7 linked regions of the Homo sapiens genome follow. The protein of the gene in region 4 interacts with the protein of the main gene of each other region in a biochemical or structural test. Each region holds a gene or a part of one and is shown on either strand. Other genes may lie near its edges.

The links.
Region 1: the proteins of CD226 (region 4) and PALS2 interact in a test that uses a peptide from one of them, tested with the Homo sapiens proteins (one large-scale study listed by IntAct).
Region 2: the proteins of CD226 (region 4) and RAPGEF6 interact in a test that uses a peptide from one of them, tested with the Homo sapiens proteins (one large-scale study listed by IntAct).
Region 3: the proteins of CD226 (region 4) and PDLIM1 interact in a test that uses a peptide from one of them, tested with the Homo sapiens proteins (one large-scale study listed by IntAct).
Region 5: the proteins of CD226 (region 4) and FRMPD3 interact in a test that uses a peptide from one of them, tested with the Homo sapiens proteins (one large-scale study listed by IntAct).
Region 6: the proteins of CD226 (region 4) and ARHGEF11 interact in a test that uses a peptide from one of them, tested with the Homo sapiens proteins (one large-scale study listed by IntAct).
Region 7: the proteins of CD226 (region 4) and PDZD2 interact in a test that uses a peptide from one of them, tested with the Homo sapiens proteins (one large-scale study listed by IntAct).

Annotation. Positions count from the first base shown.
Region 1 is NC_000007.14:24,674,036-24,678,238, reverse strand, and holds part of PALS2 (protein PALS2), read right to left. Parts: intron 1-4,203.
Region 2 is NC_000005.10:131,428,938-131,433,140, forward strand, and holds part of RAPGEF6 (rap guanine nucleotide exchange factor 6), read right to left. Parts: intron 2,413-4,203; coding exon 1,922-2,412; intron 280-1,921; coding exon 1-279. UniProt on the Homo sapiens protein: Guanine nucleotide exchange factor (GEF) for Rap1A, Rap2A and M-Ras GTPases. Does not interact with cAMP.
Region 3 is NC_000010.11:95,238,540-95,242,742, reverse strand, and holds part of PDLIM1 (PDZ and LIM domain protein 1), read left to right. Parts: intron 1-4,057; coding exon 4,058-4,175; intron 4,176-4,203. UniProt on the Homo sapiens protein: Cytoskeletal protein that may act as an adapter that brings other proteins (like kinases) to the cytoskeleton. Involved in assembly, disassembly and directioning of stress fibers in fibroblasts.
Region 4 is NC_000018.10:69,888,502-69,892,704, forward strand, and holds part of CD226 (CD226 antigen isoform a precursor), read right to left. Parts: intron 1-4,203.
Region 5 is NC_000023.11:107,452,284-107,456,486, reverse strand, and holds part of FRMPD3 (FERM and PDZ domain-containing protein 3), read right to left. Parts: intron 1-4,203.
Region 6 is NC_000001.11:156,934,340-156,937,742, reverse strand, and holds the end of ARHGEF11 (rho guanine nucleotide exchange factor 11), read left to right. Parts: intron 1-246; coding exon 247-494; intron 495-737; coding exon 738-927; intron 928-1,498; exon of another isoform or gene 1,499-1,612; intron 1,613-1,684; coding exon 1,685-1,743; 3' UTR 1,744-2,903; downstream 2,904-3,403. UniProt on the Homo sapiens protein: May play a role in the regulation of RhoA GTPase by guanine nucleotide-binding alpha-12 (GNA12) and alpha-13 (GNA13). Acts as guanine nucleotide exchange factor (GEF) for RhoA GTPase and may act as GTPase-activating protein (GAP) for GNA12 and GNA13.
Region 7 is NC_000005.10:32,086,369-32,090,571, reverse strand, and holds part of PDZD2 (PDZ domain-containing protein 2), read right to left. Parts: intron 3,442-4,203; coding exon 1-3,441.

The sequences.
Region 1 (4,203 bases), on a different chromosome or scaffold from region 4:
GTTGGTCTGTGCTAGGAACGGTTATTACCATTTTTTAAACTGTTGCAAATGTGTACTCTCTGACAACTTTGTTAACAACAGCTTTGAAGAAGAAAAGTAATTTTTGAGCGTGTTATTTCAAGCTTAGCCTTACTCTGGGCTTTGCTGGATCGGATATAAGAAGTATCCTGTTTCTATTAGCTAAGTAGTTGGAGAATAACTGATGGAATTATTAACTACACCAAACTAAACTAAGAAAGTAATCCGAATAAAAAGATGACAGTGTTTTGACTATTTCTAATAAGCCTAAGACATAGAAAACTTTTATAAGAACAAAATGAACTTCAAACTCATGCTCAAAAATAAGGGTCAAATGAGATCATTATGTATAATAGGACTCCTGTTTTCCCCTTGTTTTCTGGCTCAACCTTGAGAGTGGTCGTCTTAGACTACTGTGAAGAGTATTTATAAAGTATCTTTGAGAATCTTCAAGATGCTATGATGGCTTTTCATATTTAAAACTGTGTGATCTTTAAGGTTTCTGGAATTAGTCACCAAAGGTGTGTATAATAAAACTTCTCAATAAATGTAATCCAGCATATAAACAGAACCAAAGACAAAAACCACATGATTATCTCAATAGATGCAGAAAAGGCCTTTGACAAAATTCAACAGCCCTTCATGCTAAAAACTCTCAATAAATTAGGTATTGATGGGACGTATCTCAAAATAATAAGAGCTATCTATGACAAACCCACAGCCAATATCATACTGAATGGGCAAAAACTGGAAGCATTCCCTTTGAAAACTGGCACAAGACAGGGATGCCCTCTCTCACCACTCCTATTCAACATAGTGTTGGAAGTTCTGGCCAGGGCAATTAGGCAAGAGAAGGAAATAAAGGGTATTCAATTAGGAAAAGAGGAAGTCAAATTGTCCCTGTTTGCAGATGACGTGATTGTATATCTAGAAAACCCCATTGTCTCAGCCCAAAATCTCCTTAAGCTGATAAGCAACTTCAGCAAAGTCTCAGGATACAAAATCAATGCATAAAAATCACAAGCATTCTTATACACCAACAACAGACAGAGAGCCAAATCATGAGTGAACTCCCATTCACAATTGCTTCAAAGGAATAAAATACCTAGGAATCCAACTTACAAGGGATGTGAAGGACCTCTTCAAGGAGAACTACAAACCACTGCTCAACGAAATAAAAGAGGATACAAACAAATGCAAGAACATTCCATGCTCATGGGTAGGAAGAATCAATATCGTGAAAATGGCCATACTGCCCAAGGTAATTTACAGACTCAATGCCATCCCCATCAAGCTACCAATGCCTTTCTTCACAGAATTCGAAAAAACTACTTTAAAGTTCATATGGAACCAAAAGAGAGCCTGCATCACCAAGTCAATCCTAAGCCAAAAGAACAAAGCTGGAGGCATCACACTACCTGACTTCAAACTATACTACAAGGCTACAGTAACCAAAACAGCATGGGACTGGTACCAAAACAGAGATACAGATCAATGGAACAGAACAGAGCCCTCAGAAATAACGCCGCGTATCTACAACTATCTGATCTTTGACAAACCTGAGAAAAACAAGCAATGGGGAAAGGATTCCCTATTTAATAAATGGTGCTGGGACCACTGGCTAGCCATACATAGAAAGCTGAAACTGGATCCCTTCCTTACACCTTATACAAAAATCAATTCAAGATGGATTAAAGACTTAAACGTTAGACCTAAAACCATAAAAACCCTAGAAGAAAACCTAGGCGTTACCATTCAGGACACAGGCATGGGCAAGCACTTCATGTCTAAAACACCAAAAGCAATGGCAACAAAAGACAAAATTGACAAATGGGATCTAATTAAACTAAAGAGCTTCTGCACAGGAAAAGAAACTACCATCAGAGTGAACAGGCAACCTACAAAATGGGAGAAAATTTTCCCAACCTACTCATCTGACAAAGGGCTAATATCCAGAATCTACAATGAACTCAAACAAATTTACAAGAAAAAAACAAACAACCCCATCAAAAAGTGGGCGAAGGACATGGACAGACACTTATGCAGCCAAAAAACACATGAAAAAATGCTCACCATCACTGGCCATCAGAGAAATGCAAATCAAAACCACAATGAGATACCATCTCACACCAGTTAGAATGGCAATCATTAAAAAGTCAGGAAACAACAGGTGCTGGAGAGGATGTGGAGAAATAGGAACACTTTTACACTGTTGGTGGGACTGTAAACTAGTTCAACCATTCTGGAAGTCAGTGTGGCGATTCCTCAAGGATCTAGAACTAGAAATACCATTTGACCCAGCCATCCCATTACTGGGTATATACCCAAAGGACTATAAATCATGCTACTATAAAGACACATGCACACGTATGTTTATTGCGGCATTATTCATAATAGCAAAGACTTGGAACCAATCCAAATGTCCAACAATGATAGACTGGATTAAGAAAATGTGGCACATATACACCATGGAATACTATGCAGCCATAAAAAATGATGAGTTCATGTCCTTTGTAGGGACATGGATGAAATTGGAAATCATCATTCTCAGTAAACTATCGCAAGAACAAAAAACCAAACACCGCATATTCTCACTCATAGGTGGGAACTGAACAATGAGAACACATGGACACAGGAAGGGGAACATCACACTCTGGGGACTGTTGTGGGGTGGGGGGAGGGGGGAGGGATAGCACTGGGAGATATACCTAATGCTAGATGACGAGTTAATGGGTGCAGCACACCACCATGGCACATGTATACATATGTAACTAACCTGCACATTGTGCACATGTACCCTAAAACTTAAAAGTATAATAATAAGAGGGGAAAAAAAAAAACCTTAAAAAAATAAAAAAATAAAAAAACTTCTAAGGCAACTTGTAACTCCCCAAATAAATGCATAATAGGACTTGGTTCAACATTGTGAACATTAATTTTAAAAATTAATGTTTTTTCGGTGAAGTCCTACAGTGAAACCATATAGGGGAATGCGCTGCTTGAAATAAATATGTATATGCACATGTATTACCTCTACCTCCATGCTGAGGGAATCTTAATTCTTAGAGAAATGTTCTTTAGTTTACAAGTGAATTTTAACTACAATCCTATTCTCTACTAACACTTCAAAAAACAATCTACGTTGCCACATATTTAAACTGCTTTCCATTTCTAGAACAGAGAAATTAGAACATGAAGGTTTGACTACAACTGATTCCTTAGACTTCTATACTGCGCAACTACATAATGTGATTTTTTAGAAGTAATTTTTTATGATAGGCAAAATTCTCAATTTTAGCTGCTCTTCAAATAATGAAGACACAATCAACAAAGTAATACTTCATTTGTTAACTAAGCTCAAGATGTCAAGATGTCAATGTTAAATTGAAAACAGGATGCATAACATAGCCCATCTCCCTAAAATAACAATGTTTTTCTATTTTATCTTAGGATCATTTTGTAATATATAAAGAAAGTTAAATCACCTTAATTTTATAACAGAAAATTTTAGAAATTCAAAAATATATGGAAAATAAGCAATATACTCCCAAATAACCAATGGATCAAACAAGCAATCACAAGTGAAAGAAAATACTTTGAGAGGAGATGGTGCTGTTGAAGAGCACAGTTACAGACAGAGCTGACCAGGCTCTTCCAGAGTGCCAGTTGTCCAGCAGCATGTTCATTACCCTGAAGATGTATGATGGTTGAACTAAACCCATTCATTCTAAGAAAAGGTTCTGTGGAGGGCTTTAAGCCCTTGATAATTGTCTTAAAAGCTACTGATGGGAAAAAGATCAGCACTGTGGTGAGCACTGAAGAGCTGAATCATATGGCTAATTCAAACATATTAAGAGCTAACATGGATGGGCTGAAGAATAGGGACAAAATGAGTAAGAGTAAGCAGCACAGTGAAGGGCACTACATTTCTTGCTTTCCCCAACTAATGGATGAATTGCTATTTCTTCTTCGGTTTTTACTTTTGGTCACAAAGATGGGTTCCCGTTCTGCCATATTAACTGTACTCATGTAAGGTTTAAGGTCATTGTGGAGGGAAGAAGGGTTGGAACAGCACAGTTGTTGTAAGAAGCCAGTTTATTATTTTAGATCTGGCTAACTGGTCTGTGTTGCATAGTTGCATATTCGGGATTACAATTTTAAAGTCTCTGTAGCCATCTACAGAGA
Region 2 (4,203 bases), on a different chromosome or scaffold from region 4:
GTTTAGGATGGAATGGCTGCAAATTATGCCTCTGAGGCTGAGTTACAATCTTCGATGGAACACAGGCCACGAGGTTGCTACTGAGAGAAGCTGGTGGCAGTCTAGAGAGGCTGTTATGCATCATCTTTGACCTCTGCACTGCCACACTATAATCTGGAGGTTTTAGGTGTGTGTGGGGTCCTTCCTTTAGGTCCGCTAAAGAAATCCCCAAATATCCTGGAGGAGTGGGAGGTGGCTCCCTATACCTATCGTCCTTCTTGGGTGAGGTGACACAGTACACTGGCATGAAAAATAAGCAATGAAAATGTTAATGAAAAAGAAATGGAAAAAAAAAGAAACCACCCCACAAACTTATTACAATGACAAAATACAACTTAAAAATAGACAAAATGAATAAACTTGAATGATGGCAGATCAAAAACATTTTTTAAAAGTTTAATAAACAAACCTCTTTTTAAAATACATAAACAACTATATTAAGTCCTGTAAACATTAAATAGAACGAGAGAGTTGAAGGAGATGACACTGATGACAAGCTTCCTTCTGCAATTCAGCCCCCATATCACAGAAGTACATGACAACTCCTGAAGTCACACCAGCCCTAAAGATATCAGAAACATTTAAAAGTTCACCCTACACACCGATTCTCTGTAAACTGGGAGACTTTACATAGAAATGACATTTGGGCCATCTGTTTAAGGGCTGTTTCACCTTCTCTCTGAGACATGAACCAATGTTTTCTGGCACTCCTGGGCAGATTAGTTCTCAGTCCTAGCATATAAACTTTAACTTTGCTGGTACGGAGGAACTAATTCCTTCAAGAACTTTACTTCTGGCCAGGTGCGGTGGTTCACGCCTGTAATCCCAGCACTTTGGAGGCCGAAGTGGGTGGATCACCTGAGGTGAGAAGTTTGAGACCAGCCTGGCCAACATGAAGCCCCATCTCTACTAAAAATAAAAAAATTAGCTGGGCATGGTGGCAGGCACCTGTAATCCCAGCTACTTGGGAGGCTGAGAGAGGAGAATTGCTTGAACCTGGCAGGCGAAGGTTGCAGTGAGCCGAGGTCATGCCACTGCACTCCAGCCTGGGCAATACAGCAAGAGTCCATCTCAAAAAAAAAAAAAAAAGTTGGAAAAAAATGAATGAGCTAAAAACCCAACCTATAATGCAATTTGACAAGTAACTATAAAATCAGCACATTTCACCTTCACATTTTTAGTAGTTAAATGCGACACCATGACTGTTGCATAAATTTAACAGTTGATTATGATATTAATTCAAAGTAGAGTCATTCCATATAAGTAGAAAAGCAGTTTTATATCCACGTATTTATATAGTTTAGGAAAGAAATTTTTAAAAAGTATTTGATGGCCAAATACTAAAAAAAAAAGTTTACTAAGAAAGCTTGGAATGGAATTCACAAACAGGAGTTGGCACACTCATGATGTACACCAAGAGAGTATACTGAAAAATGTTCTGGACTTCCTGATTGCATTTTCTCTCACTGTTACGACCTAAAATCAATAGCAGATTCAATGTTTCTACCACGTATGCATACCAATTGTGGTCCAAACAATTTATGAGGTGATAAAGAGAATAATCCCTTTACTACTATTGCACACTAATGCGATGATATTCCTCAATAAAACCAAAAAGAACTTAAAAACAAAAGACAAACAAACTTGTCCCTCTAATTAAATACCTTCACATCAGACTTTTCATTTTAATGGGGTTGAATAGCTGCTCCAAAGTCTTTGAGAAACCATGAATTTTTGGGAAATAACTTGTTTGTTTGTGAAGGAAAGAAAGGTTGTTAGAGAATGAATTTTTGCGACGATAAAATCCAGGGCCAAGATATCCCAATGCCATTTTTTGACTACTTAATCTCTAAATGCCACAGACAACAAAAACACAACTTACCAATCAAGCCCTTTTCTGTACTTGAAGTGACAGTTTTATAAACTGGGTCAGTGGCATCCTTGGGGTCCAAGCCTTCAGATGACTCAGCTGGGGTGCTCTCCAATACTCTCTGTTTAACTGTCCCATAGTTTGGTTCATACGTGTCAGACAGAGAACTGGAGGAGGTCCAACTCTTTCTCTCTAGGCTTCCTTTACACTGCCCACAAGTTCTAGAGCAGCTTTTAGAACAGGAATAGGGCTCAGAGTCAGTGGGTTCAACTTCAGCAATGGGGTCATCCAAATGGGTATGTCTGTAAGAGTTCAAAAAATCCCAGCTTTTTGGGTTTGGAAGGCTTTGGAAGTTGTCATGGGAGCTGCTTGAACACGAAGTCCAACTTCCACGACCACTGTCAGCTGCTTCTATAATGATATGCTCTTGAGAAATCTCTTCATTGCTCACAGACGATGAGACAGCTAAACACTTGATTAGAGATGGCTTCAAGAGTGTCCACCTAAAATTGGAGATAACGTACAATTAGAAGGCTTGCCAGAAAAACTATCTTCTCTCTGTTTCAAGTTATTATTGCCTGTGAGAAACTACAGAGCACGTACCACAAGTGTTCATGCCAAATAACATCGTGAGGAAAACAATATTATCATCATTCATCACTATATTCCTTGTAAGTATTTAGTTAACACTCAGAAGACACAGTAAAGAAACTCTAATGCTTAGCAAAATTTCCTTAGAATTTTTCTTTTTAAATTTTAAAATGTTAGATATTTTTTTTTTTTTCGAGACAGGGTGTCACTCTGTTGCCCAGACCAGAGTGCAGTGGTTATTTACAGGCACGATCATGATGCACTGCAGCTTTTAACTCCTGGGCTCAAGTGATCCTCCCGCCTCAGCCTCCCCAGCAGCTGGGATGGACCAGAGGTATGCCTGGCAAGTATTTTTCTTGAACTGATTTTAAATGAAAATGTAAAGATGAGAGTTGAAATGAATAAGGTTAAGTATACATATTCATTTTTGGTCATCACAATATTAGACTACTGCGTCCATGCATACAGAATTAAGAGTTCCCAACTTGAAGAATCATGTTTTATTTTTCAACGTACCTCTGAGGTTAGCCCAGTACAGTGCCAAGTAAACAGCAACTTCCCCAATTACCCATGAAATGAATAATTTATAGCAGGGGTCCCCAAACTAAAGCTCATGGGCCAAATTTAGCCAACAGCCTATTTTTGTATGGTCTGGAGCAAAGAATAGTTCTGTTTTTTAACCTTTTAAAAGGTTAAAAAAGAAAAGAAAACAAAACCAAACCAGAAGAATTTGTGACAGAGACTATATGTAGATTGCAGAGGCGAAAATATTTACTACCCAGCCCTTCACAAAAAAAAGTTTGTAAACCCCTCATTTACAGTATAGTGCAGGGGGTAGCAAACTACAGCCCAGGGCCAAATCTGGTGGTCTCTTTGCTCGTTTTTGTAAATAAAGTTTTGGCTGGGCGTGGTGGCTCACGCCTGTAATCCCAGCACTTTGGGAGGCCGAGGCGGGCGGATCACGAGGTCAGGAGATCGAGACCATCCTGGCTAACATGGTGAAACCCTGTCTCTACTAAAAATACAAAAAATTAGCCGGGCGTGGTGGTGGGCGCCTGTAGTCCCAGCTACTCGGGAGGCTGAGGCAGGAGAACAGCGTGAACCCAGGAGGCGGAGCTTGCAGTGAGCCGAGATCGCGCCAGTGCACTCCAGCCTGGGCAACAAGAGTGACACTCTGTCTCACAGAGCGAGACTCCGCCTTAAAAAAAAAAAAAAGTTTTACTGGGACACAGTCATGCCATTTGTTTATGTGTTGTCTATGGCTATTCTGGTGTAATAGCAGAGTAGTTGTGACAGAGGCCTTATGGCCTGTGAAGTCTAAAATGTTTACTATGTAACTTTTATAGAAAACATTTGCTGACCTCTGGTGTAGAGATCCTAGTTTAGAAATCTTTATAAATGTGGTAATAATTTATCTTAAATTTTTCATATTAAAGTAGACCAGATTTCACAATATTTATCAGTTAGAATAAACTTTCTCAAAGATTTCCACGTTGCTTGATTCTAAATAGAAATTTAGAGTTGATTTTTTTTTTTAATTAACCTTTGCTAGGTGATTATTCTTACTCCCCAAATTACACTTTCAGAGGACAGAGATCAAGGGCTAGTCCTACTCTCCCAACCTGTCTACAATGTGCACAGCACTCGAGGCACTTTCCAAAACACAACCTTTTTGATTAACCTATAGCCAGAATTTCAAAAAT
Region 3 (4,203 bases), on a different chromosome or scaffold from region 4:
GGGCCAGGATCAGGGTGAGGTGAGGGAGGCACTGCTTTGAGGGCAGAATTTTTTTTTTTTTTTTGAGACCTCTGTCGCCTAGGTTTGGAGTGCAGTGGCGTGATCTCGTCTCACTGCAACCTCCGCCTCCCGGGTTCAAGCCATTCTCCTGCCTCAGCCTCCCAAGTAGCTGGGACTACAGGCACGTCCCACAATGCCCGGCTAGTTTCTGTATTGTTAGTAGAGATGGGGTTTCACCATGTTGGCCAGGCTGGTCTCGAACTCCTGACCTCAAGTGATCTGCCCGCCTTGGTCTTCCAAAGTGCTGGGGATTACAGGCATGAGCCACTGCGCCCGGCCTTGAGTGCAGAATTTAAGGGGGCACTGGAAAACTCAATAATCATGAAAAAAAATGACATTTAAATGCAATATTAAAAAAATTAATACAGGTAAAATATATGGTGAACAAAGTTGGAACTTTGGCCTCCTCCCAAAGGAAGGGAGGAAGGCTTGGGAAGGGCAAGAAGTTGCCCTAGGCTCGGGGAGAACAGAAGCACCAAGGTGGTTTCTCCTTATGCACCTGCTGGTGGGGCAGAACTGAGTCTTCCCCAAGCCCATCTGTAGAGCTCACCACTTAAAACCATGGAGCCTCCTAATCTCAGCCCCATCTCATGTGCTGCCAGGTGGACATCTGTGTGCATCGGTTCCCAGCGATGAATAGTCCCAGCTCTGAGGGGGGAAGCCTAAGTCTGAGCCATGGCAGCATGATAGGGCTATTGAGAGTTCAGGCTGCATTCACATATACCCTCTTGTTGTTCCCCATAAGCCAGCCAAGTACCCCAAACCATCTCTCATATTGTATTATTCAGCAGTGGGTAATCTGTATTTATGAGGGCTACCGGATAGCTGTGGCTCTGCTGGGCTTGGCAGGGCTGGACCAGGCCCCGAGTCCTCTCATTCAAGCCCAGGGAAGGGAGAGGCACTCTGGTGCTTGCTGTTTTCATGGCAGAGGCAATACCTCTGTGGGAACAGGGCCAAACCACACAAGTGCCCTTAGTGCTTTTGCCTGTATAAGGCTCACATCTGCTCACGTTGGCTAAAGTCAGGATGGGGAAGTCTACTCCATCGAGAGCAGGGTTTCTCAGCCTTGGTGCTATTGACATTTTGGGCCATATGAGTCCTTGTTGTGGGGCTGCCCTGTGTATTTTGGGATGTTCAGCAGCATCCCTGACCTCTGCCCACTAGACGCCAGTGGCATCCCCTTTCACTGTGACAATCGAAACTGCTCTCTAGGAGACAAAACTGCCCCCAGTAGGGAACCACTGACTGGAGGTAAGCATGGCAAGAGAGGGGCGGGGTAATTGTGGTCAAAATACAGTCAACCATGTATTCTAAATGCCCCTTGTTGCCAGGCACAGTGGCTACTGGAGAAGCTCTGGTGGGAGGATCGCTGGAGGGCAGGACTTTGAGACACAACATAGCGAGATGCTATCTCTAATCAGTAAAAATAAACAATTAATAAATGTCCATTGTGTGAACATGTGTCTCAATTTTTGGTTCGGAAGGATTGGTCAGCATACAGGGACTCACTTTCTGAAAGAACAAGAGAGCTAAGGCCCTTGTCTGTCAGCCCCGCGATTGCCCGACGTGACTGCAGTCATGGGGTGACCCTCTCTTCATCCCCTCACCTGGCACAGGAAGCTGTTTCTTTGCTCTTGTCCAGTGGTTCTTGGATCAGTGGCGCCTGGGAACTTGTTGGAAATGCAGTCTTAGGCCCCATCCTGGGCCTTCTGGCTCAGAAACTCTGGGGGTGGGGCCCAGCAATCTGTGTGTTAACAAGGCCTCCAGGTGATTTTTACCATTATTAATAGCTACCATGGTACAGGGCTTTGTTACCTAAGATGTGATGAGTGGGGCCTTAGGCAGCTCAGCATCTAGCTACTAGGGGCTTATTTTACACGCACCAGGCTGACTACAGAAAGGCTCCTTCCTCTGCTCTGTAGGAGATGATTGTTATCTGCCTGCTGTAGCATGCTGTATTCTGATGGTTTTGTTCTATCTGTGATGTGGATTTCTTTTCTAAGAACTTTATTTATTTTTAAATTTCCAACATTTAAGTTCAGGGGTACATGTGTAGGATGCACAGGTTTGTTACATAGGTAATGACGTGCCATGGTGGTTTGCTGCACAGATCATCCCATCACCTAGATATTAAGCCCAGCATCCATCAGCCATTCTTCCAGATGTTCTCCTTCCCCCACTCCCCACCATCTGACAGGCCCTAGTGTGTCTTGTCCCTCCACCATGTGTCCATCTGTTCTCATCATTCAGCTCCCACTTACAAGTGAGAATATGTGGTATTTGGTTTTGTGTTCCTGCATTAGTTTGCTGAGGGTAATGGCTTCCAGTTCCATCCATGTCCCTGCAAAGGACAAGATCTCGTTCCTTTTTATGGCTGCATAGTATTCCCTGGTGTATACGTACCACATTTTCTTTATCCAGTCTATCATTGATGGGAATTTAGGTTGATTCCATGTCTTTGCTATCATGAATAGTGAGTGCTGTGATGAACGTAAGAGTGCATGTATTTTCATGATAGAATGATTTATATTCCTTTGGGTATACATCCAGTAATGGGATTGCTGGGCTGAATGGTATTTGTGCTTCTAGGTCTTTGAGGACTCACCACACTGTCTTCCACAATGTTTGAACTAATTTACATCCCAACAGTGTGAAAGCGTTCTTTTTTCTCCACAACCTTGCCAGCATCTGTTGTTTTTTTACTTTTTAATAATAGCCATTCAGACTGGCGTGAGTCGGTATCTCATTGTGGTTTTGATTTGTATTTCTCTAATGATCAGTGATGTCGAGCTTTTTTTCATGTTTGTTGGCCGCATGTATGTCTTTTGAAAACTGTCTGTTCATGTTCTTTGCCCACTTTTTAATGGGGTTATTTTTTTCTTTTATTGAGATGGAGTCTCGCTCTGTTGCCCAGGCTGGAGTGCAGTGGCACAATCTCAGCCCATTGCAACCTCCGCCTCCTGGGTTCAAGTGATTCTCTTGCCTCAGCCTCCTGAGTAGCTGGAACTATAGGTGCATGCCACCACACCTGGCTAATTTTTGTAATTTTAGTAGAGAGGGGGTTTGGCTATGTTGGCCAGGCTATTCTCAAATTCCTGACCTCAGGTGATCCACCCACCTCGGCCTCCCAAAGTGTTGGGATTACAGAAGTGAGCTACTGTGCCCGGCTTATTTTTTTCTTGTAAATTTGTTTTAAGTTCCTTGCAGATGCTGGATATTAGACCTTTGTCAGATGGATAGATTGCAAAAATTTTCTCGCATTCTGTGGGTTGTCTCTTCATTTTGATGATAGTTTCTTTTGCTGTGCAGAAGCTCTTTAGTTTAATTAGATCCCATTTGTCAATTTTTGCTTTTGTTACAATTGCTTTTCGGGTTTTCATCATGAAATCTTTGCCCATGCCCATGTCCTGAATGGTATTGCCTAGATTTTCTTGTAGTGTTTTTATAGTTTTGGGCTTTACATTTAAGTCTTTAATCCATCTTGAGCTGATTTTTATATATGGTGTAAAGAAGGGATCCAGTTTCAATTTTCTGCATATGGCTAGCCAGGTCTCCCAGCACCATTTATTAAATAGGGAATCCTTTCTTCATTGCTTGTTTTTGTCAGGTTTGTCAAAGATCAGATGGTTGTGGGTGTGTGGTCTCGTTTCTGGGTTCTCTGTTCTCTGTTCTTCTACCAGTACCATGTCGTTTTGATTACTGTAGCCTTGTAATATAGTTTGAATTTGGGTGGCATGATGCTTCCAGCTTTATTGTTTTTGCTTAGGATTGTCTTGGCTTTTTGGGCTTTTCTTTGGCCAGGTGTTAATCTCCTATTTTATAGAAAAATAAACTGGGGACCAGAGAGGCTAAGTTACTTGCCCAGGATCACAGAGCAGAGTCACTCCAGTTCCCATGGCCTTGCTTGAACATATATTTATAAGTGGTTCTGAAGAGCTGAGTGATACTTATGCAATTCTGCCCTTCCTGGCCAATGACAGTGTTTTCCTCATTTCAGGGGATCCCAACAAGCCCTCAGGATTCAGAAGTGTTAAAGCTCCTGTCACTAAAGTGGCTGCGTCGATTGGAAATGCTCAGAAGTTGCCTATGTGTGACAAATGTGGCACTGGGATTGTGTGAGTATCTGCTTCCCACAGCCTTTGC
Region 4 (4,203 bases):
ACTAATTCTTGGGCTCAAGGACTCCTACCGCCTCAGCCTCCCAAAGCACCATGTGTGAATTTTAAGTAGGAAGAAAATCAGTACATTTGTCTGAATGTGAATCCTGACTTGTAGTCTAAGTTCCCAGGGAGAGAAAAACTTTATGAAAAGAGTTGAAAATTCAATCAGAAGATAAAGGTCCACCTGTAGAACAGCAGTTCCTAGGATCAACTGCTTTCTAATTCTACAAACTTGCATTGTTTATAGTGGTGTTCTGTTAGAACTTGCTTTATGTACATGAGGTAGCAATGTACAGTCAACAATGTTCTTCAATATAATAGTGTCATCAGATAAATTCAGCATGTAACCTTTTAGAGTTTCATTCCCTCTGACAATAACTTATCACTATTATTCAATATCTTACTTATCTATACAATAATAGTATGTATAAAAAATGACTGCAGGCAAACATTCTAGGTTTTTGTGTGTTCAAAAAATGAATAGATCAATACTAGGGCTTACAAAACAAATTAACTGACCGGTTGCATTTTTTTGAATGCAATAGATCATTAAAAAAAATGATCTGGGCAGAGGCAACAGTAAAGTAAAGATTCAACCACATAATAGCCATGATTGAGTAATCAACTCACTTGTGATGCTGGAAACTATGTTTCATCTGGATACCCAGTTTCACCGAGAAAACTAAATTGGGCTGAAAATTGTGGTTGATCTGTTTGAGTAGAGGTTATTTTAGCTTGTGAGCAGTGACACGGTGCTCTGGGATTCTGGTCGTGTTGCTCCATCATATAAATTAACTGTCATGGACATTTTACTTTCCATGTAGGTAAAGATAATAAAAGGCTGAGGTTCACCACACAATGTCATGGAAAGGGACATATCTGTCAGCCCAGTGCACACCAGTTCAGACAATCCTCATGTCCACAAGCTTTATATCTATTCTAAATTCATAGGAGTGGGACAGAAGGTTCTGGATTAATGGAATCCTTAAAAAAAAAAAAAAACTGTCTTGTCTACAACCTGAAACTCTTCTGGAATCCAAATGGACTGGGAGCAAACTGGTTGGTTTTTGACAGAAATAAAAGGCCAAGGAAATAAGCAAAATTTATTTCCTTTCTTCAATAATTTTATAATCCAACTCAGGAGCACAGAGTCTCAAAGTCAGTAACCTCCCACAAGCCATCTACAGGCAAGATTTATAATCTGTATAAATAAGATGTATCATCTATATACGGATGTATTTATAACTTACAGCACTCTATTCCCCTGTCCTTCCTCCTTGTCAATCCTATACCTCACATCGTCCCAGAGGAAATATCTGGGAAGATTCTCTTAGCTGTGGCACTATGATTTCCTAGTGAATAGTTTTGTAATCTTAATTTACTAATCCCATCCTTCTATTCAGATGACCAGCAATTATGTGCCACTTATATTAAAAATTCAAAATAAGAAAATGAAAGTTAAAAAAGTAAATAGCCCTATCTGAAAGTTATATATGTAAACAAGAGTTCATGAAAGTTTTTTCTCCAATCACTGTAGTTGATCTTTTGAAAGTTCAGTTTCTTTGATCAACAATCAGTAAACCTCAAAGGTTAAACGTTGAAGAAAAAAAATCTGGAAAGAAAAGAGGTAGAAAACTTAAAATTAAAATGGACACAGCCCCTACTAGAATGAATAGAAACATTAACATAATCGGTCAAGAACACTTACTGGGCATATTCTGAAAAGATGCTTTGACAACTTTAAGCAGATGCCATAATCCTTAATCTCAATTAATTTCTGATAACCAGAGTTTGGAACATTACAAATAGATGCAGGCCAGGTGTGGTGGTTCACACTACCAATCCCAGCACTTTAGGAGGCTGAGGCAGGGGATTGCTTGAGCCCAGGACCATCCTTGAAACCCCATCTCTACCAAAAATACAAAAATTAGCCAGTCTCATAACCCGGTCTCAAAAAATAAATAAATAAATAAATACAAATAGATGGAAGTTAATAAGTCACTCGAGGGTAGCAATTTTCAGACTATAAAAGTTTGAGAAATCCAAGATGCTTAATATTTCAATGATGGGGAAGCAGTTTGGTCTGATGTGGAAAAAAACATAGACATTGAGACGGCTGAAACTCTATAGGAAAGAAAGCAAATGTGATGGAAACTTAGTCAGTTAGAAAAAGGAGAAAGTAGGAAAGTGTGAGTGTTTTGAGGCAGTGGAAAGCACAAACTGAGATTCAAATCATGCTGACAGTATCTCTCTACCCTGTGTAGGACACCTTTGTGCCTACAAAGGTAGGTGGATCAGTGGCCTATGACCCATCACTGATCCCAGGACCAGGTGGCTTCACAGATGAATTCTATCAAACATTCTAGGAATTAATGCCAATCCTGAGTTTAGAAACAGTTCTACATTATCATGTGTAATCAATAAATGATTTAATTCTTTTTTAAAAAAAGAAGCAGTTCTAAACTCAGTTTATGAGACCAGCATCACCCTGATACCAAAACCAGACAAAGACACCACAAAAAAAAAAAAAAAACCTACAGGCTGACATCCCTAATGAACACAGATGAAAAAATCCTCAACAAAATACTAGCAAACTAAATTCACCATCACATTAAATGGATTGTATATTCTAATCAATTCTGATTTATCCCTGGCATGCAAAGATGGTTCAACATATGTAAATCAATCAATGTAATACACCACATTAACAAAGTGATATAAAAAGGCCACATGATCATCAAAATAGAGCATAAAAAGCATTTGACAAATTCAACATCCTTGTGTGATTAAAAAAAAAAAACTCTCAACAAATTAGGTACAGAAAGAATTTACCCCAACACAATAAAGGCCATCTATGAAAAGCCCACAGCTAACATCATACCAAGTCATGTAAGACTGAGAACTTTTGCTCTAAGATCAGGAAAAAGACAAAGGTGGCCACTTTCAACACCTCTGCTTAACATAGTACAAGAAGTCTTAATCAGAGCCATTAAACAAGAAAAAGAAAACAAAAGGCATTCAAATCAGAAAGGAAGAAGTAATATTATCTCTGTTTGCCGATGACATAATCATATATGTATAAAACCCTAAAAGTGCCACAAAAAAACCTGTTCAAACTAATAAATGAATTCAGTTAAGAGGCAGGATACAAAAATCAACATATAAAATATCAGTCAGGTTTCTGTACACAAACAGCAAACTATCCAAAAAAGGAATTAAAACAAAATCCCATCCCCAATAACAATAAAAGGAATAAAGTATTTAAGAATAAACTTAACCAAAAATGTTAAAGACTTGCACACTGAAAATCATATAGCAACTTATTCTTTCATGATTATTGTTTTGCCATCTTTGCTCAAGAACTAATGGTAGCTTTGCTTGACAATTATATGAGATGCAGGTTTTCACTGTCATCACTTAATTTAACCTACCTCGTCCCATATTAATACATAACTTAGACTCTCCATACCAACCTAGTCATTTGACTACAGTCTCCCATGCACCATCTCCCCATTCCTCCTGCATATTTGGGGTTACTCTTCATAACCTGTTTCATGTCATTCCTCAGCTCTAATCATCAATGCCTCATTTGAACCTTGATGGTCCCGCCTGAGTGGTCTCACTGGTGGAAGACGATTATACAAGGACATGAGTAATTATACTTATCAATAGCAAACAGAAGTTTTTTCAATATTAGCCTCCTCCAGAAACTTTCTGCAAGAGCTGATTTTATTTCTTTTGCCTTCATTCTTTTTATAGCCAATAAGGTCAGTTTAAACAATAGTAGTCTGCAAATCATTTAGCTAATATTAAAATATTTGACAAATTATTTTAGTGGCACCTAAAATACTTCTCTTATGACAAATGAAAATCCAGAGGATGTTAAGGGCCAAAAATAACTGTAGTCACTGTCAATAAACAGACATTCCCCTGTGCTCCCCCCGTCCCCACTTTCCTTGCCCTTCGGTCCAGGCAAGTTTCAAATTCAGAAAAGTCAGTCTGGAATTATTTCATTCTACATTTCAGGACATAAGTGCAAAGGACAAGAGAAATGTATTTCTTTTCACTCAGCAAAGAAAGTCAGTGGTAAATGTGAGTTCAGTTCTTGCTTCTGCCATTTTCTCCTCTGTTCAAAACCAATCAAGGCCTGGATACTTGACCTGCTGGTTGGCAGGGGTCCTCTGTTGAGTGACCTGGTACTTGT
Region 5 (4,203 bases), on a different chromosome or scaffold from region 4:
AATGATGTGATCGATGTTTGGCATGATAGGTGAAGCAAACATGGCAAAGTCCTGATAACTAGTTAATGTGGATAATGAGTATGTGGGGGTTACTATACTATTTTCTCTAATTTTTTTGAGGTTGAAAATATTTATAAGAAAAAGTAAAGACAGGCTGGGCACAGTGGCTCATGCCTGTCATCCCAGTGCTTTGGGAGGCTGAAGTGGGAGGATTGCTTGAGCCCAGGAATTGGAGACCAGGTTAGGCAACACAACAAGACCCTGTCTCTATGAAACACTAAAAATTAGCTAGCAACTCGAGAGGCTAAGGTGGGAGGATCACTTGAGCCCAGGAGTTTGAGGCTACAGTGAGCCATGATCATGCCACTGTACTCATCTGGGCAACGGAGTGAGACCCTGTCTCTAAAAATAATAATAATAATAATAATAGTCATCCACTATACCCACTCTATCTTCCTAGCCTTATCTTCCATTCCTGCCCTATTTCTCTATGACACAGCCACCCTACGTACTTGCTCAAGTTTTTTCCAGTCTGAACTTCATCCCTTCACTTATTCATGAAGTCATTCATTTGAGTAGTCAACAAATATTTATTAAGTATCTCTTCTATGCACTAGGCACTGTAAATTCAAAGATGACTGAGAAGGAGAAGGACAGGAAGCCTCCTTCATCTTTTGTATTATCCACAGCAACTAGCACAGTGCCTTGTACATAATTGGTGCTCAATAAATGTTTTATGAACTAATGTGCAGGGGGAGATGCGATAGAATCCCTGTCTAATATGAATCAACAAGTATTTGGTCCAATTCAACATATGCCTATTGAGTACCTACTGTGTATTAGGCACATATGCTATGGGGATTTAAAAAAATTAAAAAAAAAGATGTACTTGCCAAATGTATTTTTATTTATTTATTTATTTAGAGACAGGGTCTCACTCTGTCACCCAGGCTGGAGTGCACTGGTGCGACCACAGCTCACTGCAGTCTCGACCTCCCGTGTTCAAGCCATCCTCCCGCCTCAGCCTCTCTGTAGTCCCGAGTAGCTGAGATAACAGGTATGCACCACCATACCCAGCTAATGTTTTAGTTTTTTGTAGAAATAGGGTCTCGCTATGTTGCAAGGGCTGGTTTCAAACTCCTGGGCTCAAGCTGTCCTCCCACCTCAGCCTCCCAAAGTGTTAGGATTACAGGCCTGAGCCACCACACCCAGCCCCAAATGTATTTTAGAGACGGAGGAGTTGAGAGGAGAGAGAGATCACTTTAGTCTAAAATGATCAGAGAAGATTTCACAGAGGAGGTGAATTTGAATGTAGAGCTGAAGGATAGGTATAGTGATATGGAATAGGAGAGAAGCATAGGCAGAAAGGAAAGGGCATTCCTGGTGAGTGAAATGGAATGAACAAAAACATAGAGGCAAAAAAAATGTACAAGGTACGTTTAGGAGATCCTGGGGTAAGAAACTTGGCTGGAGTAGAAGGGTCCATGTAGGGCTTTGTTTCACAAGTAGATCAAGTGTATCAAAATCACTTGGGGAGCTTGTTAAAATGCATATTCCTGGACTCCAGCTTCCAGACCTACTGAATCAGAAGCTCAGGAGGTAGGACTCAGGAATCTGCATTATAACAAGTTCCCTCAAGCAATTTTAAGACACATTAAAATTTGAGAATCAATGATGTGGACCAAGCATGAGAAATAGGGTTGGAAGAATATACAGGGTTAGGTCCACACAAGGAGAACTTTGAATGCCAGGCTAAGGAGGCTGAAATTTATCCCACAGGCAATCAGGTATCACCCTCCAAGGATGATGATCAGAAGCATTATGAATAAAGGATATTCCACAACATTAATCTAGCAGTTGTGTGTATTATGGACTGGAAAGGAAAGAGACTAGTGCAGTGTGGCTGTGAGGTGGTGGCAGGAGTCAGGGTGGACTGGGGCATAGGGGATGAGTCAGAGATGGCTTTGAGGTTTCTAGACTGGGAGACAAGAAGCCTTATGGTAAAAGAAAGGTGAGAAGAGTGAGTCATCTCTGAGAAATAATGAGATGAGTTTGTGAATACTGAGTCTGAGAGCAAGCTATCCAAGAGGAAATGTTTAGCAAGCAGTTGGAAATATAGGACTGAACCTCAGGAGTGGGGTTAAGTTTGGGCTAGAGAAATGGGAATGGTTGGTAAAGAGGTGAGAAGGGAAGCCATGCATGCCTGTGTGTCCTTGTCAATAAAGAAAGTGGAAAGCAGGAGGAGCTGGAGAACACCCAGATTTGAGGGGTAGTAAGAAGAACTAGCAATAAAAGAGAAAAAAGGAGGGGTCACTTGGCTGGAAGGAGACCCAGATATTAGAACCTAGCAGAGAGTTCTTTCAAAAGCTGCGGGTGGCTAGTAGTGTGGCTAATGGCAAAGTGAATTTGAGGCACAGAGCAAAAACACTGGCTACGGCATGCATGCTGAGAAAGCTGCAAGAGTGCACACACCTGCTCATTCTCATGTTCCTTAACACAAACACACAGAAATAGACACACCTGCTCCTACAGATACACAAGTAGCACCTCTTTCCCTCTCTCTCCTTTCCCCGCCCCACGTTATACACATATTCCCATTTCCAGGCTCATTTTCTGACTACCAGGGATTGGGCACTAGTGTGCCACAGGCTGTTAATGTTCTGTTTTAAGGATGGTGCCTCAGGTCTCAGAAAAGGGTGCTCTGCCTGTCATGGGTGGGAAATAATACAGAACCCCAAGATCACTGTCCTTGCCTTTGGCAGCTCAGCTGAGGGGAGGAAAGGAGGGAAAATGGCATGTTTCTCTGGATTTGCTCCCTACCCTACCCCTTTGCCCCTAGCCCCAGGATTTCTCAGCAGACAATAAGGTCCACCCCATTTTGAGAGTCCTTCATTTTGGCTGCCGATAATGCAAGAGAATGTTTTTGTTTCTGAACTTATGGTAAAAAGGAAAATAGAAGTCCTTGAGAGAAGAGCCAGAACAGAATTTTCTGCTGGGAATGCTAATGGCCTTAAGGCTGCCCCACAAACAGAAGCTGACTTGAGTGTGCTTCCTCCCAGGGGGCCTGTCAAAGCTAAGGGTCTTCATCTAGTATCAATAGGTATCAATTCTAGTCCCCCTAGCAATGATTGCTAGGGCCTATATGTGAAGGCAAGAACCCCCCAAAACCAAGCTTGTCTGCATGAGCCTCTCTTTCCACAATTTGCCCCAGGTATGTGTTGGGGTTTGAGGGTGTGTCTGAGGGGTGTGTGTCTTGTGTGTGATATGTGTGTGTGTATTTGTGTGTATGTGTATGTATGTGTGTCTTATGGCTTCATTCAGTTAGCCTGGAGGTGCCACAAAAACAGGGATCTTTCCTCTGTTGCATTGGTGCTGCCCCTCCAAGTGCCTTATCAGGCATTAGCCACGGAGTCCAATCATTTATGCGTAGTGGGGGAGGGTGGGTACAGAGTGCTTCCGTTGTCCTGCATCCACCCATGCTCCCTCCAAGGGCTGAAGTAAGGATTACTGCGGTGGGGCAATTCCTCTCCTCTACTCATCCCACCCGAGACTCCTCTGTTACCCACCCCCACCCCCATCTCCAGCAAGCCTTTCCCAGCTTGCTGCTATCATCAGCAATCCCAGGGCTTTCTTGTTGCACTTTTTCAATCTACTACTGCTCCTAGAGGATGTCGTTGGTCACAAAATCCCCCAACTGGGCCACACAGCTCACTTCTCAAGACCCTCGGACTGCACCACTTACAAGAGGGAGGGGTCCCCTGACTCATTCCAAATGCAGCTCGCAGCCTCATAGGAGTCCCCAGACCTCTCCTCCAGTGGGGTAGAGGCTCTGTTGCACTATCCAAAGAAGCCATAGCACCAACAGCATCACGAGCTTATGTTGGAGGGGGCACTTACTGAGTTCAGGCCAATAGTCTGGCCACTCAGCAGAATGCCTCACATATCTGGGAAACCCTCAGGGCCAGAAGCCTGGGGCAGCTGCCACCCTCCCCTGGCCAGTCTCCTCTCCCTGGTGGCCTTCAGCCCACAACTGCAAGGCGGTTGTGGTGTTGGGTGCCAGCGAGAGATAGGGGATATTCTCTCCACATGCAGCAATGAGTGTTTCTTTCCTGCTTATATCTTATTCCCTCCTTTCTCAGAATCTGGCAGTGGCTCCCAATTGCCTCTCAAGTCAATTGAAACCTTCTCTTTGTGGGCCTCAAA
Region 6 (3,403 bases), on a different chromosome or scaffold from region 4:
CTTGAGTTCATCGCTCAGCATCTCCCCCAGCTTGGGGCCAGACTGAGCAAGTGTCATCTAGAAGGTCTCGGGAGCAGGGCTTTTAGGGGGCTGGCAGACAGTGAGCAAGGCCCACGTTCTCTGAGTTTGTCTGGAGAGGACTGCCTGGCCTGCTCTGTCAGGTGGCTGGGGAATCCCACAGGAACGGGAGGATAGCTTCGACTTCTCTGTTTGCCTCCTGATCTCATTCTCTTACTGTGGGGACAGGGAACTGCTTTTATGTCAGCATGCCATCAGGACCCCCGGACTCAAGCACCGACCACTCAGAGGCACCCATGAGCCCCCCTCAGCCTGACAGCCTCCCTGCAGGGCAGACAGAGCCTCAGCCTCAGCTGCAGGGAGGCAACGATGATCCAAGACGCCCCAGCCGCTCTCCTCCAAGCCTGGCCCTCAGGGACGTGGGCATGATCTTCCATACCATTGAGCAGCTCACTCTCAAGCTCAACAGGCTCAAGGTGAGGGAAGCAGGGCTTGGGTCCCTGCAGGCCTTCAGTCCATCACCCCAAAACCATTCCCCATGAGTGAGATGTGTGTCTTCGCGGGAGCCCTAGATCCTGTCCTGGCCCAGGGATCTTCCCCCAGCCCGCCCAGCCACCCTTAAATCACACCCTCCTCCCCAAGGCCCAGCACAGACCCCTTCCCCAGGGGCCTTAGGAATAGAAGGACTCGAGCAGACATTCCCCCGCCGACTCTTCCAGGATATGGAGCTGGCCCACAGAGAGCTGCTCAAGTCCCTTGGGGGAGAGTCATCTGGTGGCACCACGCCTGTGGGCAGTTTCCACACAGAAGCAGCTAGATGGACAGATGGCTCCCTCTCACCTCCCGCTAAGGAGCCCCTAGCTTCTGACTCCAGGAACAGCCATGAACTGGGGCCCTGCCCTGAGGATGGTGAGTGAAGCCAGGTCCCTCTCGGTTCCTACCATTGGGGGAGAAGTCTGCCAACTCGTGAGGACACATCACTAAGCAGTGAGAGATGGTGGTTCTGAGAGTGGTTTCCCCTTGAGTGAAACGAGTTCATTCTCTCAGCTTCAGAGAGGGATCTTTTTAGGGAAGTCCCACAGAAGCTCCCTGGCAAAATGGGGAGCTTAGCACTGAGCCCTCTTTTTCCTTGTGCTATGGAGGTAACAAACCAGGAGGAGCCTGTTCTCACCTCTAAGACTTGTTCTTTTTTTAATTTTATATATATATATATATATATATATATATTTTTTTTTTTTTTTTTTCTATTTATTTGAGACAAGGGCTGGCCTGGCTATGTTGCCCAGGCTGGTCTCAAACTCCTGGGCCGAAGTGATCCACCCACCTCAGCCTCCAAAGCAGCTGGGATTGCAGGTGCACACCATGGTGTCGGCCTAAGACTCGTGCTGATTAAATGATTCAGAACCACACTGGGTGGGCCAGGGACACAGCTATGTCATAACTCAGGAAGACAAGGCACATACCTACCTGACCTAAGGGCTTTAGGCGCTGATGAAAGTGGAGTTCAGTAGACAGCCCTTTTCAAGCCCTACGAGAAACTGGGGTTTCTGGAGGAGAAGGAAGGTGATGAAGGATCTGTTCTCGTGAGCCTGAACTTTCTAGACAAAACATGTGGAAGCGGTCACCTCAGGCTGGCCAGTTCCTCACCTTCATCCTCCTCCCACAGGCTCTGACGCCCCCCTGGAAGACAGCACAGCAGACGCAGCCGCGTCACCAGGACCATAACCGTACAAACCACCAAATCCTCTGCGTCCCCACTCCTCCTTCAGGGACTGGCCTGAGACCGGGGCACAGGGTAGGGGGGATCCCAACACTCCTCCCTGTGGAGGAGGCAGTTAGGGAAACTAGGATCCAGCCAAGGCCCGGGGGGAGACCCGCATGTTGCTTGGTCTGCTCAAGTCGGAGTCAGGTTTCAGTGTCTTTTCCCTCCCTTAGCCCAACCCTCCAAGGCCTCATGTCTCCTAAGCATGCTGACTGCATCCGAAAGGCCCCCACTCACCATGGTCTGCCCTCACCCCACATATGTGTGTACACGCGCACGCCTGTATGTGCGCTGCCCTCAGACATGCAAGTGAAAGGAGGAGGCTTCTGTGTAAATGCACTTTCTTCCTCCCCTCTTTCTCCATAAGACCCCAGGCAGAGGTGGGTGCCTCCCCTCCCCTCTTTGTCACTTTGGTTTCCTATAAATATGTATGTATCGTATGTGCATCTTTGCTATTGTAAATAACTTTGACCTTTTTTGTTCCTGTTCCTGAAGTGCTGGAGGCAGTTATGGAAGGAGCTGCTTAGGGAAGAGGGGTTTCACTTGTATCTCCTTAGTTAACAACCCAGTTCCAGGATCGAGCCTAAAGCGGGAGCCAGGCCTGAGTGTTCCTGTCCCTGTGAGTGGGAAGGTCTTCTGGCTCCCCATCCCACCTGGCTCCAGAGCCTGCCCTCCACAGCTTGCTGCCAAGCTACTCCCTCCCTCCCTGGACTTCTCATCTTCACAAGATGGGGATCATGGGGGTTTCTTACCCCACCTATGTCCCCCTCTTCCCCACCCTGTCCCTGTAGAAAACCAGTGAAGCAGGTACGGAGCTGAGGACTGGGCCCCAGGAGGTGGGGACAGGGGTCTGAATGCCGAGTCCCTGAATTCACCCAGGACCATCCAAGGGGCCACCGCAGCATTGGCCCCATCACCACGTCCTCACCCAACTCTCCCTGATGAATAGAATATACACACTGTGCTAGGTGTATATATACATATATATATATATAAATATATATATAATATATAAAATATAGATATGGAAATGACTGTTCTGCTGTTAAGATAATGTATACTCTTTTATTTTCTTCCTTTCATGGTTAAGATTTTTTTTTTAAGAAAAGTTAAATATCCTTCAGTGGTGGTGTGTGTGTTTCTTGGAATCGCTGTGATAAAAGGTACGGTGTTTGTTCCCTGTAAGACTGGTTAGGATTGGATAGTGGGAACCAGAGGGAGCCCTCTCACCCCCAGACCCAGATCTTGCCTGTTCCCTCCCAGAGCTTCAGCTGTGCACTCACTGAACTAGGGACTGGGCAAACTTAAGTTGTACAACCCCCATGGAGAAAACATGACAAGACACTGAACTCAGTTACACACACACAGATATATATATAGATACATATATATACACACATATATAGATATACACACACACACACATATATATACACATATATGTGTATATAAAGGAGCAGTGGACCCAGAGTCAAGAGGTCTCATGAGCTGCCCTCAATGAGCTTGAAGACTTTAAAAGCCAAATCTAAGTGGGAGGGTTGCCTCAGGCCTGGCCAGTTCATCACTGTCATCATCCATCCACATCCTCCCACAGACGCAGCCACATCACCAAGACTGTAACCA
Region 7 (4,203 bases), on a different chromosome or scaffold from region 4:
CGGAAGACCGCCTCCCAATGGGAGGCTTGGAGCTCACCGACAAAAATGGGGAAGCCCCGGACTTGGCTACAGGCCGGTCAGCATTGGCCAGGTTCTCAAAAGACTTGATCCGCTGCTTCACAGAGAAAAATGAGGTAGATTCATGGGGCCAGTTCTGCTCATAGCAGTAGTGTCGTCTGGTGACTTTGATTTTGTCTGTGACTAGGCAGCTCGTCTCCTGGACTGAAATGATATCCCCTTCATCTGTGGCTGGAAGATTCCTCGATGTGTCCAGCAGCGGCTTTACACTATATATGCCCTGTCCATTAGCCAGGCTGGGAAGACCACCTCTGGATGCCTTTGCCTCGGGGACAACACTGCTTGTCACAGGGACCTGGCTGTCCCGAGAGCGACCCAGGCTGTGTGGGGGGTGACCCTCCCGTCCAAAATGGCTTGAGAACTGGGCTGGCATGGAGTAGGTCCTGGTCGCTGGCCTTGGGGTGAAGTAGAGATGGTCCTCCCCCGAGGGGCCCCCTGGAATGCTGTTTCTGGGCACCCCTCGGGAGTCTGACATCAGGCTTGATTTTCCCTGGGAGTATTCTGCCTTTCTAATGGCTGTTTGAAGGGAGGAGGAGGAGGACGCCAGTTTTGCCATGCTGAATGATCGTGACATTTCCTGCTCTGCCTGGGAGGCATGAGATGGGAGTGAGGATGGATGACTTGTGGATGATTCTGCGACCTGGCGATAGAGCCTGATTTCACTCTTCTCCTGACAGTTGCCCTGGGCCAAGCACCCTCCCCGTCTGTCGCTTTCAGCTGGCTTGTTACCACATACAGTCTCTGACACTGCTTCAGCAGAAATCTCCACGATTTTCAGCTGGTTTGTTCTTTCGAGGCGATCGCTGGCCATTATGTTGCCTCCTTTTTCGCCAGTCGGCCTGGGTTGGGCTGTGTCTGCTGCCACATGGCTGGCCAGGCGCGGCTCACTCTGTCTGTTCCCTGCCACGGACATGCCGTTCCTAGACGCTGCCGGACTCACCGGCCCGGAGTCAGCACGGGGCGCCCTGCCCTCTGCTCTACACTTAGGAGATTTAGGGGTGGTTGGGCAACCTCTGTCGGGTTCAGAGAGGACAGCCATGTGGAACCTGCTCCACATGCCTTGCTCAGGAACAGGCTTGGGAGAGGTCAGGGGCGAGACAAATGTCCTGATGCTCGTGTCAGACACTGAGGGTTTCAGTGGCCCAGAGGTGGCAAGAGGTGGCTTGCTTTCCAGCACACACTGGGGGGACCTGGGGGCAGCTGTGGTGTTTCTGTCAGGGTCCTCGTGGTCGGCTACATGGAGCCGCTGTGACACTGCCTTAGAAAGTGTTTTGTGGGAGGTCTGGGGTGAGATCAAGGGTTTCCTGTGGTCCGTCCCCCCAGCCTTCACAGCATTCGCAGCAGGGGCCTCAGAGTTGACTTTGGCCTTGCCCTTGAGGCTGAGCCTCTTCAGCTTCGGACCACACTTTGCCTTCTGACCATTAGTCAGAAGCATTTCTGCCGGACTCTTCTTAGACAGGTCCTTATTTTCCAGGTTTGTTTTCGGCTGAGGAGGGCTATGAGGCACAGTAACGCCCTTTTTTTGGCTTGAACTCACCATCTGAATCTTGGAGTCGGGACTTCTGGCAGGCATTAGAGGTTGTTCCTTCTCGGTTTTGCTCCTCAAATGTGTGCCTTGGTTATGTTTATTTATTTCTTTAAACCAGGCCATGATGGGCCTCCTAGCGATCATTTTTGGTTTCTGTAGCAAGTCATCCAGGTCTTGACTTTCAGAGATGTGGAGGTTTTCCAAAACAGATTCTCCATTCTTAGGGACATCCACACTGAAGGAGGACAGACTGGCAGCTGCATTAATGCTTGTTTCGTATTGATTCAGGGTTTCGTCATCTAGCAGGTCATGTTCCAAGCCATTTACCATGTTGGGGGAGCTGAGAATGATGGGCGGACTGTGAAAATGCCTGGCTACTTTAGACAGCGGACTGTTTTCCATGGCTGAGCTAGCGCTGGTGACTTCTGTGGTTTCTTCTGCACACGAGGGCCTGTGGTTCTGTGAAGTGCTTATGTCCGCATGAGTTTCATGCTCCTGAGAGCTCATCTCCAAGAGTGATGATGGCTGGGAAGAGTCTGGGCCTGAAGTGTATGAGCCTGGCAAGCAGGCGGCCTTCTCACGGGGACTGGCCACCGACTCTCTCGGAGTGCTGTATTTTAATGACAGAACTTTGGCTGAGGCAGGACAGATGGCAGCCTGGGTGGGAAGATGAGCAGGACTCGAGGGTGGATTGGGGCAGCCACGTGTGGAACAAATCTCAATCTGTTCCTCTTCTGACTCCGAAGGATCTTCCTTGTGCAAAGACACACGGGAACGAGGAGGGGACCAGCCGTCCCTGGCAGAAGCTCGTGGGGCTTCAGTGAGTGACTCAGGGTCAGAAGAAGAATCCTCAGCATCGCCATACATGGATGACAGAGACGGCTCCGTGCTGTCACCCAGGCCTGATAGGGAGGTGCTGTCTTCATGAAAACTGCTAAAATTTCTAGAGTAGTTGCTCAGAAAGTTTTTGTTCACAGTAAAATGTTTGTCGGGATTAATTGAATCTAAAACCGAAGGCTGGGAGGCCCATTGTGGGTAGGCGGGGGCACCAGCAGCCCAGGCCCTCCTCGGGGAGGAGGTCTGGCCCCCCGGGACTGGTTCGGCACGGCAGGAGCTCCCACCTCCAGCCCCGGCTGGTGGGTGGCCCTGAGCACTGCCCTCCTGAGAGCCACTGTCCCCCGTCTGGGAAGACGGAGACCTTGCTGCAGAAGCATCCAGCTCCTTGATGAAGCTGTCAATGTCCGTCACAGGGCTCTCTCTACTCCCCCCTGGGCAGCAGTGCCCCGAGACATGGCCACATGCTTCTTTGGTGTTGTCAGTGGATGGCAGCATGGAGAGGCTGGCCTGCGGTGCCCTTGAGGACACAGAATCTGCTCCCTCCAGCAGGGAAGGCTCCTGGGAGCTTTCAGGTGCATGGATTCCTGTCATTTCCAGAGCCTTACTGTGGTTACCTGGAGCTCCCTGTCTCTGCTCCTGGGATGTGAGGGGGTCTCCTGGCAGGACAGCACCAGCTGGTGTCATTCCCTCTGCTCCAGGTCCCGCTCCCCTGAGGGCAGCCACCCTCCTGGTATTGTGGGGTGTGCTGGTTTCCGATGCTGATCGAGTCTTGCTGTAGTCAGGGGGAGCCGCTGCTTTCTCCCCCGGGGAGGGGCTGCCCTCATGGGGGAGCCTGACTGGAGACCTGGCCTTGCACTTGGTGACCCTGGGCGATGCAGGCTGGCTGGGATTCTCTGGCCGACTGACTTGCCCTGTGTCTACAGAGGTCTTGCTGGGGTCAGGATGAGCGGCCCCCTTCTTCCCTGGGGAAGAGATGAGGTCTGAGGAGCTGTCCAGTTCTACGTGGGGAACGTAAACAGAAGGTACATACACAGGAGAGGTTGTAGGGGAGATAAAAGGGATAATATAAGAAAGCAGCCCCTCAATTATTAAAAACTAGAAAATTATAAACAACCTCAAATATTTTTTTCTTTTTCAGAAAGCTGGGCGTGGTGGCGCATGCTTGTAATCCCAGCACTTTGGGAGGCGGAGGCGGGTGGATCACCTGAGGTCAGGAGTTCGAGACCAGCCTGGCCAACATGGTGAAACCCCATCTCTACTAAAAAAAAAAAAAAAAAAAAAAAAATTAGCTGGGCATGGGGGTGGGCACCTGTAATCCCAGCTACTTGGGAGGCTGAGGCAGGAGAATTGCTTGAACCTGGGAGGTGGAGGTTGCAGTGAGCCGAGAATGTGCCATTGCACTGCAGCCTGGGCAAAAAGAGCGAAACTCCGTCTCAGAAAACAACAACAACAACAACAACAACAAAACGGCGTTCTGTGGCCTAAATGGAGGCCCTTCTTGTCTTCCTGGTTTTCTCTCTAAAATTATAGAGTACCCACATCTAACAAATACCACCCTGCTTTAGACGCTCTAAGAGAACTCAGATTAGCCGGCAGAAGAAACATTTACATCTGCCCATTTTTCTCTCTTTTGGTATTTCTATGATGGCAGATGTTCCTACCACAAAGAAATGATACATTTGATGTGATGGATATGCTGATTACCCTGATTTAATCATTGCACACTTGGGTCTCTTTATGCCATTCACCCTCTGATGGCA